Regions from separate parts of the Homo sapiens genome. Here regions 1, 2 and 4 are each linked to region 3. Evidence: fine-mapped expression QTL. A gene starts in region 3. Each other region holds a variant in brackets. All regions are shown on one strand. Distances are between the middles of the regions.

Region 1 (2,683 bases), 63 kb before region 3:
CTCAATTTAAAATAAATCAAATTTAAAGAAAAATTTTTCTAAGTAGGAAAATGAAGGCTTAAGTGTTGGCCTTAACTGGGGAGGAGTGCAGATAAGAGGTCATCTCACTAAGAGAAGGTTTGCCTTTATTATATATCCCCGTGAGGAGTGAGGGCTCTGGTCCTGCTGCTGCTGAGTAGGTCAGCACACAGTAGTCAGAACAAAAAAACCCTGCTACACCACAGACTTAAAGCATCTGATTTGAACTATTTAAAAACCAAAAGGAGAAAGAAAATCCCTTCCAATTTAAGATTCTTTCACAACTTCTTGCTAGCAATTTGAGAAGGGAGCAGCTGCTGGTAAGTCACTGCAAGATCAGGCTGAAGTTGTTACTGAGGCCAACTGCGTGCAGGCAGTGATAAAGAAACACCACTGGGCTTCCTCCTTATGCAAATATCCACATGGATAACACTTTAAAGCATATAGCATTTACAAAACTCCATGCATCTCCTTTCTAAGGCAGAATACACTTGCCCCAGGGAGAGAGCCTTACTTGCCAGGCCATGGCATGAAGGGCCAGAGACCCAGGACCTCCCCTATGTTGCCCCATTACAACACCTGCCCATGGCCCATGCCACCAGAAACCAAAGCATGAGAGAAAAGACAGCCCAGGGACATGAGTCCCCTTGTTGCCACCAAAGCAGTTACACAAGAACAGGTGGCAGGGTCCTGGATGCCCATGGGAGCTTCCAGAAGGGAAGCACCAGGCTCACTTGTCTCTACCTGTCGTCCTTAGAACTATCACAGATGAAGTCTTAAGATCTGAACTCTAGGCTCTCCCCATGTATCAGGTGGACATCCTAGAAAAACTTTGGTTATTGTGCTCTGGGAAAGGATGGGGGGAAAAACCTTGTCCTGCTCAACACTTGCCTAACGAGACTGGCCACTAACTGCAATACTTTTGGAGAGTTCCCCTGCCCCTCATCACTCTCTGTAGGCTCAGCTGTACCCTCAGCTGCCTCTCCCTGCCTCCACATCCCCAAACTCTATAGTATGGTTTTCTTCTCTTATAGTATTCAGTTGTTAGCAACTGAGAAGGGGGCATCAACCACCCAAAAGCACCACCCCTCCCAGTCACTGCTCACTGGCAGATGGGCAGCACTTCTCCTTGATGCCCGGGTACTGACTTGTTTTCCCTGCCCACAAATATTTCTTGCCAAGGAAGGAAAGGAAATAAGGATCCCTTTTATAAGGCAGGCATTAGTGGTGCTGGGAGATTTGCTCAAATAGGGCTAGCCTGGTTCTTTTTCTTGTGTATTTGTTTTTTAGCCTCCCAAAGCAGGGAGAAAGCACCTAGTATTTGAGGAGGTATAAGTAAAGTGACAACATACACTCAGAAAGGCCAATAGGGCCCATGAGGCATGACCTAAGGAACACTGCACCCTTTCCCGTGTGCGGGTAAAGCACCCGCCTTACCTGATATGCCCTGATGAGCGACTGCACTGCCAGGTGGTCCTCCACGAGCTTGTCCACGTTGGGCTGTGC[T/C]TCTACCAGGGACTGTGCATGGGCCACAGCAGCCAGGGAGCCTCGGCTCAGGGGAAGGGGACTCTGGTAGGCAGTGCCCGGTGGGGCTCCGGCATTCGTGTTGCGAAAAAAAATGTCCCATGACTAAAGACAAAGAAGGTACAGGGTTACCTCACTGCTCCCCTAAGTCCAGGATGCATCTGTGGCCACAGAGAACTGCTCTCTGCAGGCAAGGCAAGTCTACCATAGGCTGGCTGAGCCTGCTTCCTCCTGGACAGTGGGGTCTCTGTCTGTTCCCAAACGGTGGGTTTCTCTCAGCATTCAGGCTCCCTGCTTTCCACAACTTTTGTCTTCGGGATGCACTTTCTGACCCCCACAGCTATAACACAGATGCCCTGTGGCCGCCTTCCATCAACACACATAACCCAAAGGCCCAATGCCAACAGCTCTCCTCAGTTCCTATTCACTGGGCCTGGGGACAGATTCAGGATGTAGGTCAACAGAGACACTTACTGTCTCAGCCTTCCCCCCGGCCCCAGCACCTGGGAGGTGATCTCTTGACCTTCTGTCTATAGGTCTGCAAACTCTACCAGTTTTTCTGTGGGATCAAACACCCCATCAAACACCTCCCTCAAGGCCCCAAGGGCTCAGCACAACCTGTGAAGAGCCCAGGGTCACCTTGCTCATGTCCTTTCACTTCCCTGGGAACAAAGTGGAACCTGATCCTTTGTAAGAGGCAGCACTAACCCCACAGAGAAATAATATCATTGCTACCTCAGGAGAAACTCAGGAGCTAAGAGCTCAAAGTGTGGGGTCAGAGATGGAAATTCAAATCTGATCTCTGTGTCAGGGATCAAAATTCAAATTCAAGAGGTAGGCTCTTAGTGAGTTACCTTTCTGTGCTGTTTTCTCATCTATGAGGAGAGAAATATATACATTCTTCATAGGTATGCTGTAAAGACTACCCTAGTTAAAGGCATTAGCACACAGTCTAATACTTCACAAAGTCAGGTGTTAGTTATCAGTTTGAATTTCCTTAGAAAAACTATAAACTAATTTACTTATATTCCTACTATTTTTGGCTATTCCATGTCTGAATTATTTGATTTACAATTTGCAGATACTGTGAACTGTAATGGTTTATTCATCTCATACAAAGATGCAAGTTTTTAAAATATTT
Region 2 (2,683 bases), 900 kb before region 3:
AGCCAGGTGATTCTGGCTTCCACACCCTTCTGGCTATGATACTTGGACATGTTACTGGGCATGTCTGTGCCTTCCTTTCCTCACTTATACTATGGAGATAAAGCGGTGCTGCTGTTGTACAATTGCAGGAAAAATTATGTGACGTCACCCTCAGTATCTGACCTACAATCAGCATCTAGGCGGGCACTCTAAAGATGGCAGCAGATTCTCAGCAGAGTGGTAGTCTACACCCAGGTGAAGATCCCTTCCGTTTTCCTTGCTATTCCTGCTTCTTTGCTCATCACTATCTCACAGAAGCACAGTGACTCCCGCGCCTCCCCCTGTAGGGCAGTTCTCAGGACCGAGGGGCGATCCACGGCTCTCCTACTAGCTCCAGGTGAGCCTTCTGCAAATAGGCCACATGTCTAAGCCGTCACTCTCTGGGGATACTGCAGAATGACTCTCATGTGACAAATTAAGACTAATTCCATTGATGAGGACCCCGCCCTTGATCCTGTCACCTTGACTTATACACTGTGATGCCTGGGGGCAAATCAGCCCTGAGGGGCACCTCATAGTTCTCACAATGCTGAGGGAAAATCATATCTTTGAACCTGTTTTGCACAAAGTGAATAAACGTGAATTGTATTTTCTTGTTCTCTTGGGATGGTCTTGAAATAGCTCAGCAAGTTTGCAGATGATAGTAGCTGGATTGGTTTGGGGGTGACATGGGGATTGGCAAGGGAGGGTGGATATCAGCCCCGGATCTAAAATGATACCTTAACAGTCTTGGGAAAGGGATCCTATTTAACTGAAATAAATGCAAAGTCTTGAGATTTGCTCCCAAAATGTTTCCAACATCACAAATACTAAGTAAGGAGAAACAGAGCAGGAGCCAGCTCAACAGGGATCCCCCTACCAAAATTGGGTTAATTAGGGCATTAGAAAAAATAATGGCTGTCACTGACTAAAACGTGTTCAATTTCTAGAAATCCATGACCCCATATTAATTCTCAAAGAAGACAGCAAAAACAATCTGTCTTAATTGGTGTCTGTTGGAATGAGGTATTAAGTCAGCTCTTTCCTCTGAAAATTCACAATTAGGAGAATGAAGCCCTC[G/A]TGCCACCTTTCCAGCAGAATTTATATTTGTGGTTACTGAGTAGGCTTAGCAGATGAGATAAAATTCTTCCCTATGGAGTAAGGTCAGCTAATAAACTGAATTGATAGAGTAAGAAAATCCTCTTTAACATTCCTAGCAAAATAATTGATGTAAGCAAGGCACATCCAGGGATGCTAAGGAGGTTGATGGGATGCTGGATACTCTCAGGGTTCCAGATGCACATCCCATAGATTTCTGGCCAATACCCAGGGGAAACATAATGTTGCAATGGAGGATGCGGTTTGTCAAGTTACCCAGAGAGCTATTTTAGCATATTTTAGCTATTTTAGGCCACCAGGCAATGCATGGCTCCTGATATGATCCATCCCCTATGTGTCCTTGCCTAAATTGCTTGACTAGATCACAGCAGGTCATTGAGGGCCTCGCTTCCAGTTTATAGGCAACGCAGGAGATAGGGAACCAGTTACACACTGCAGCAGGAAGCAGGAATGAGTGGCAACAGTGAGAAGGTGGGACTCGTGAGACAACTGGCCTGGTCTCTTCAACAAGTCAACACAATGAAAAAGAGATGCAGAAGGAAAGGTTAACTAGCTTTAAAGAGCTATGAAAACATACAACCAAAAGTTTTGTCTTTGATTTGCCCAAATCACATTTTAAAAACATCTTGGAGACAACTGGAGACATTTAACTTTCGAATGGGTATTACATAATATTAAGAAACGCTTGCTAATATTTTTAGGTGTGAACAATAGGATTGGGATTACATAGGAAAATTAATTTTTATAGGAGAAAACAAAAGTGGGGTAAAATGCCACATTATGTGTAATTTACTCTAAAATACTTTGGTTAAAAACAATAGCTGTAATAAGTAGGGCAATGTGTTAATGAAATCTAGGTGATGAGTCTATAGATGTTCATTTTCATATTCACTCCACTTTCTGGTGCTTTCTTCTTCTTCTTCTTTTTTTTTTTTTTTTTTGAGACAGAATCTCACTCTGTTGCTCAAGTTGGAGTGCAGTGGCACAATCTCAGCTCACTACAACCTCCGCCTCCGGGGTTCAAGCAATTCTCCTGCCTCAGCCTCCTGCATAGCTGGGATTACAGATGTGAGCCACTGCACCCGGCTACTTTCTTGTATTTCTGAAACATCTCATACTGAACAGTAAAAAAGAGTAAAGAAAAAGATCATGGCTCAACAGTAGCTCATTAACAAAAGATGTGAGAGACTCTGTGAACTGCAAGGCTATAAAAGGTGACTGTGTGGCATGTCCACCAGTGATGCTGTAGCAGCCATGGACACCTCCATGGAAACACAATGCCCAAACCCAGGACAGAGATCATCAAGAGCTGCTCTGCCTTGGAAGACTGGAAGGAACATTGGAGAGCCAGACGACTTAAAGCAGAGGGAGCAGGGGGTGGGGAAGGCTCTGTAAATCAGGTGTTAGGGCAGAAATGGCAAACAGATTTTGTGTGAGTCTCTTCTAAGACTGTCCTTCCAGGCTGGTATGGGAGGGCACTCTGAGAGCCATCATAGGCAACTTCTTTTCCCTTTCTGAAATCCTGGCCTTTATTGGCCCACCAAAT
Region 3 (2,683 bases):
GTGCTGGGATTACAGGCATGAGCCACTGTGCCCAGCCAAAATTGTTATATATTAAGAGACATATATTTGTATGAAATGCAGTAAGTAAACCTTGTTTGGACCCTAAATATCTAATGTACAAAATTTTTTAAGGCAATGGGGAAAATTAAACACATACTAGGTATTAAGTGATGTTAAATAATTTTTAAAATTTTGGTGGGTGTGATAATAGTATAAAGTCCTTATCTGTTAGAGACACACACTGACGTATTTATAGGTGAAATGACATGATGTCCAGGATTTGCTTTAATATACAGCACTTCAAAAAAAAATGCAGAAAGGGATACATGAAATGAGAAAGGCAGCAAACTGTTGTTGAAGTTGGATGATGAGTACAGCCCTCCGTTATTATCCAAGGGGGATAATTCCTGGACCCCTACGGATACCAAAATCCAGGTATGCTCAAGTTCTTTATGAAAGTTCATTGTAATTATTCTATTATATAAAAGTTTCGAAATTCTGTTGATAAAATGTATTTTTAGTAGAGACGGGGGTTTCACCTTGTTGGCCCAACTGGTCTCGAATTTCTAACCTCAGATGATCCACCAGCCTTGGCCGCCCAAAGTGTTAGCATTACAGGCGTGAGCCACCGCGCCCGCCTGGCCTTGATAAAAACAGTTTTAACCTTCCGTTGCTTCGATTCCATGCCCACTAAGTAACATTCCAGTTTGTTTTTCACTTTCAAAAGGATGTGCTGTAACTAGGGGATGTAAACAAGCTCCATGACCCTACTTATTCCAAGTTTTCGTTCCACTCTCCCACCTTTTTTTTAAGACAAGGTATCACCCTCGGTCGCCCAGGCTGGAGCGCGATCACTGCTTAATGCATCCTCGACCTCCTGGGTTCAAGCGATTCTCCTGCCTCAGCCTCCCAAGTAGCTGGGACTACATGCGCACACCACCACACCGGTTAATTTTTTGTAGAGACGGGGGTTTCACCATGTTGCCCAGGCTGGTCCCGAACTCCTGGGCTCAAGGGATCCGCCCGCCTCAGCCTCCCAGAGTGCTGGGATTACAGGTGCCAGCCACCGCGCCCGGCCCCAGCTTCTTAAAAGAATGATCCGAAACTATGGCAGCACTGGGCTTTTGGTCCCCACCCAAGAAATGCCCGCTCGCAGAGGCTCGCCGCGGCAGGCTCTCCCGACGTGACAGAGTGTGGGTCTGGATTCAGCCTCGGTTCTTACGAGTCAGATAGGTGGACACGCAAAGCAAAACATCACAGGGCTTTTTGTATTTAGCACAGAAAACACTTGTGAGCCCGAGCTGAGAACCCAAAAGGCACGCTTCAGGCCATCGTAGCCACCAAGCCTGGTCAGATTCCGTCCACCGTCTCCTTGGTGCTCCGAGACCCAAATCGCTGACTGGGGCCGAGGGCGGGCGTGACTGCGCAGGCGTGCCTCCCCTGCGAGATGCCGGAGGTAAGCTGCGGGGTAAGGGGCGAGAAATTAAGGGCGAACGTCATTGCGCATGCGCCCTCTACTCTCGTTGCGGGGGTAGGCGGGCGCCGGGCTGTGTGAGGGGGCGGGGCGCGGCAGTGTTCGGTACGGATGGAGTTGCAGGAGACGGCGAGTACATATCACTGCGCAGGCGTCCTCTTCCCCTAACTCTCAGGGTCGCTAGGGTGGCGCGCAGGCGCAGAGCGATGCGCAAATGTGCGCAGGCGCTTAGGGGCTGAGGCGCGATGGCAGGTGTCGGGGCTGGGCCTCTGCGGGCGATGGGGCGGCAGGCCCTGCTGCTTCTCGCGCTGTGCGCCACAGGCGCCCAGGGGCTCTACTTCCACATCGGCGAGACCGAGAAGCGCTGTTTCATCGAGGAAATCCCCGACGAGACCATGGTCATCGGTCAGGCGGGCTGAGGGTGGGGAGGCCCTTTGTACCCAGCTCAGCCCTCGGCGGCGCTCCCTCCTCCCGAGCCCAGCCGGGTCGCTGGCTCCCCCAGTACCTAGCCTGAGGGTGCCCCGAGGACGCCAGGCCCCCTGCCTAGAGCTCCGGGCCGCACGTCGGAGGGGGCCGGGCGGAGAGGCGGCCCACTAGGGCCGGTCGTGACTATGTGTCTGCCCCGCAGGCAACTATCGTACCCAGATGTGGGATAAGCAGAAGGAGGTCTTCCTGCCCTCGACCCCTGGCCTGGGCATGCACGTGGAAGTGAAGGACCCCGACGGCAAGGTAAGGCTGGCGTTGGCCCACGCAGCCGTTCTTCAGTGGAGCTCCCGTGGGGTGTAAAGCACTGCCTGGAGGAGGCCTCAAGGGACAGGAACTTGCACTTGGAGAGCCTGCGGTATAAAGGTGGGGCCTTCACTCACATATGTTGCAGGTGGTGCTGTCCCGGCAGTACGGCTCGGAGGGCCGCTTCACGTTCACCTCCCACACGCCCGGTGACCATCAAATCTGTCTGCACTCCAATTCTACCAGGATGGCTCTCTTCGCTGGTGGCAAACTGGTAAGAGGATTTTCTCTTTGGCTTCAGCTTAGAATCTCTCACTTGTTTCCAAATTTTGATTTATCAAGATTGTGAAACTTTGTAGCACAGTCAGAATTGGGGAGACAGATGTTGCCTTCTGCTCCACAGCCAGGGACAATAGTGGGTTCCATACCCTGGAACAGACAACTGGAGGCCCCACCACTCATACATTCCATGTTTCCTTG
Region 4 (2,683 bases), 36 kb after region 3:
TTTTCTTTCTTCTTTCTTTCTTTCCTTTCTTTTTCTTTCTTTCTTTCTTTCTTTCTTTCTCTCTCTCTCCTCCCTCCCTTCCTTCCTTCTTTCCTTCCTTCCTTTCCTTTTTTCTTTTGCTTTTTTCTTTCCTCTTCTTTCTTCTTTTCTTTCTTTCTTTCTTTCTTTCTTTCTTTCTTTCTTTCTTTCTTTCTTTCTTTCTTTCTTTCTTTCTTTCTCTTTCTCTCTCTCTGTCTCCTCCCTGCCACCCTCCCTTCCTTCCTTCCTTTCCTTTTTTCTTTTGCTTTTTTCTTTCCTCTTCTTTCTTTCTTTTTCTTTTTCTCTTTCTTTTTCTCTCTCTCTTTCCTTCTCTCCCTCCCTCCTTCCCTTCCCCCTCCCTCCCCCTCTCCTCCCCTCCCCTCCCCATCCTGTCCTTGTGTGAACATAGCTCACAGCAGCCTTAACCTTGAGGGCTCAAGTGATCTTCCTGTGTCTCTTCCAAGTAGCTGGGACAGCAGGTGCCTAACCTCCGTCTAATTATTTATTTTTTTCTGCTCATCCTCTGTGGGTTGGACCCACTGCCGAACCAGTCCCAATGAGATGAACTGGGTACCTCAGTTGGAAATGCAGAAATCACCCACCTTCTGCACTGGTCTCACTGGAAGCTGCAGATGGGAACTGTTCCTATTCGGCCATCTTGGCCCCTTCCAATTATTTATTTTTTTGTAGAGACAGGGTCTCATCATGTTTCCCAGGCTGGTTTCAAACTCCTGGGATCAGGGCAGGATCTTCCCACCTCAACCTCCCAAATTGCTGAGATTACAGGTGTGAGCCACCATGCCCAGCCTGCTTTTCTATTTTGTTGTAGAGACAGGCTCTCACTACCTTGGCCAGGCTTGTCTCAAACTCCTGGCCTCAAGCAGTCCTCTTGCCTTGGTCTTCCAAACTGCTGTGATTACAGGCATGAGCCACTGCACCTGGCGGCTTCTTCTTCTTCTTTTTTTTTTTCTTTTGAGTCAATGTCCAGCCTGGAGTGCAATGGTGCGGTATGGCTTACTGCAGCCTCAAACCCCTAAACTCAGATGATCCTCCCACCTCAGCCTCCCAAATAGCTGGGACTACAGGTACATGCCACCATGCCAGCTAACTTTTTTTACATTTTATTTTTTGTAGAGATGGGGGTCTT[G/C]CAATTATTGCCCAGGCTGGTCTCAAACTCCTGGCCTCAAGTGATCCTCCCACCTTGGCCTCCAAAAGCATTGGGATTACAGGCATGAGCCACTGTGCTTGGCTCAAAGCTGCTTTAAAAATTTATGTACATATATATATTTTAAGACAGAGACTTGCTCTACTGCACTGGCTGTAGTGCAGTGGCACAATCATGGCTCACTGCAGTCTCAAACTTCTGGGCTAAAGCAATCCTCCCGCTTCAGCCTCCCAAGTAGCTGGGACTACAGTTGCATGCCACCACCCCCAGCTAATTTTTAAATTTTTTGTAGAGACAGGGTCTTGCTATGTTGTCCAGACTGGTCTCAAACTCCTGGGCTCAAGCAATCTGCCTGCTTCAGCATCCGCAAGTGTTGGGGTTACAGATGTAAGCCACTGCGCCCACGAGTTGCTGCTGAATATCCAAATTGTCTAAGCTTCTCCTCTGGGTTTAAAATGGTCTATGGCATGTCTCTACCTATAACCTCTTGCCCCAGGCATCTTTTCTGAGCAATGTCCTGATTTTAGGTAAGAGATACAGCATCTTGCATCAGTTCTTCCAGGATCCCCCAGACAAGAACAGATGCACGTAATAGTTTGCAAATAAGGCCTGCTCTCTTTGGAGGAGGGAGCTGAGAACTGTACTACTGTTGTCTCAATTCCAAAACTGTTGACTGAGTGCAGTGGCTCACGCCTGTAATCCCAACACTTTGGGAGGCCAAGGCAGGAGGATCACTTGAGGCCAGGAGTTTGAGACCAGCCCAGACAACATAGTGAGACCCTATCTCTACAAACAATTTAAAACACTAGCTGGGTGTGGTGGCACATACATGTAATTCTAGCTTCTCAGGAGACGGAGGTTGGAGGATTGCTTGAGCCCAGGAGTTTGAGGCTGCAGTAAGCCATGATTGTACCAATACATTCCAGCCTGGGCTACAGAATGAGACCCTGCTTCAAAAAGAAAAAAAAAAAAAAAAGACCAAGACTGCTGCCATGCTGGGGAAGGGGTGGGGCAAGACTAAGTAAAAACACCACAAAACTTTGCTACTGTTTTGAAGATGGCCTTTTTTAAATTGAGTGTTTGCCTGGTTGCTGTAGGCCTTTGTTTTCTAGAGTGACAACAAAGTTGGTTCTGACAGTTTGGCTTGTTTATTCAGTGTTTCAGTTTGGAAATGAGAGCTTGGAGCTTCCTAGGCCACCATTTTGCTGATGTCATTTCCAATGGCATTTTTTGCATCTCGACTTTTTCCTCGCGTTCAATGCTTCAGGACCACAAGATGGTTGCTACAGCTCTAGACCTTCCATCTGTCTAGTGTGGCGAAAAGTGGGGAAGGCTAGAATATCATGCCAGCTGCATACCTCCCCTTTCATGAGGGAAGAAAAAGCCTTCCCACGGGGATCACAGGGCCCCTGCTAGCTGCAAAGGGGTCTGGGAGAACAGGGAGAGCCTCTCTCACCTGAGCAGTGGACACAATCCTTCACCAAAGAGTGCAGGTTCTGA

What was found. PIP is the estimated chance that this variant, and not a neighbour inherited with it, causes the effect. A credible set is the group of variants that fine-mapping cannot tell apart.
Region 1: its variant is the best candidate, but not a certain one, in a credible set for the expression of TMED4 in whole blood (TOPMed, PIP 0.64).
Region 2: its variant is the best candidate, but not a certain one, in a credible set for the expression of TMED4 in tibial nerve (GTEx, PIP 0.55).
Region 4: its variant is the best candidate, but not a certain one, in a credible set for the expression of TMED4 in blood mononuclear cells (TOPMed, PIP 0.76).

Annotation. Positions count from the first base shown.
Region 1 is chr7:44,644,291-44,646,973 of GRCh38, reverse strand. It overlaps OGDH (oxoglutarate dehydrogenase), which reads right to left. Exons shown (of 23, transcript NM_002541.4): 3 at 1,456-1,647. Among named protein-coding and RNA genes, the nearest start is that of OGDH, 39 kb to the right of the region's middle. RefSeq lists an enhancer at 1,034-1,534. The variant T/C (reference allele first, on the strand shown) is at 1,525.
Region 2 is chr7:45,481,340-45,484,022 of GRCh38, reverse strand. No RefSeq gene overlaps it. Among named protein-coding and RNA genes, the nearest start is that of ADCY1, 92 kb to the left of the region's middle. The variant G/A (reference allele first, on the strand shown) is at 1,099.
Region 3 is chr7:44,581,243-44,583,925 of GRCh38, reverse strand. TMED4 (transmembrane p24 trafficking protein 4) reads left to right here and starts at 1,695. Exons shown (of 5, transcript NM_182547.4): 1 at 1,695-1,879; 2 at 2,103-2,203; 3 at 2,352-2,477. The coding sequence starts at 1,720. RefSeq lists an enhancer at 1,212-1,321 and silencers at 1,412-1,571, 1,972-2,071.
Region 4 is chr7:44,544,986-44,547,668 of GRCh38, reverse strand. No RefSeq gene overlaps it. Among named protein-coding and RNA genes, the nearest start is that of NPC1L1, 5.0 kb to the right of the region's middle. The variant G/C (reference allele first, on the strand shown) is at 1,166.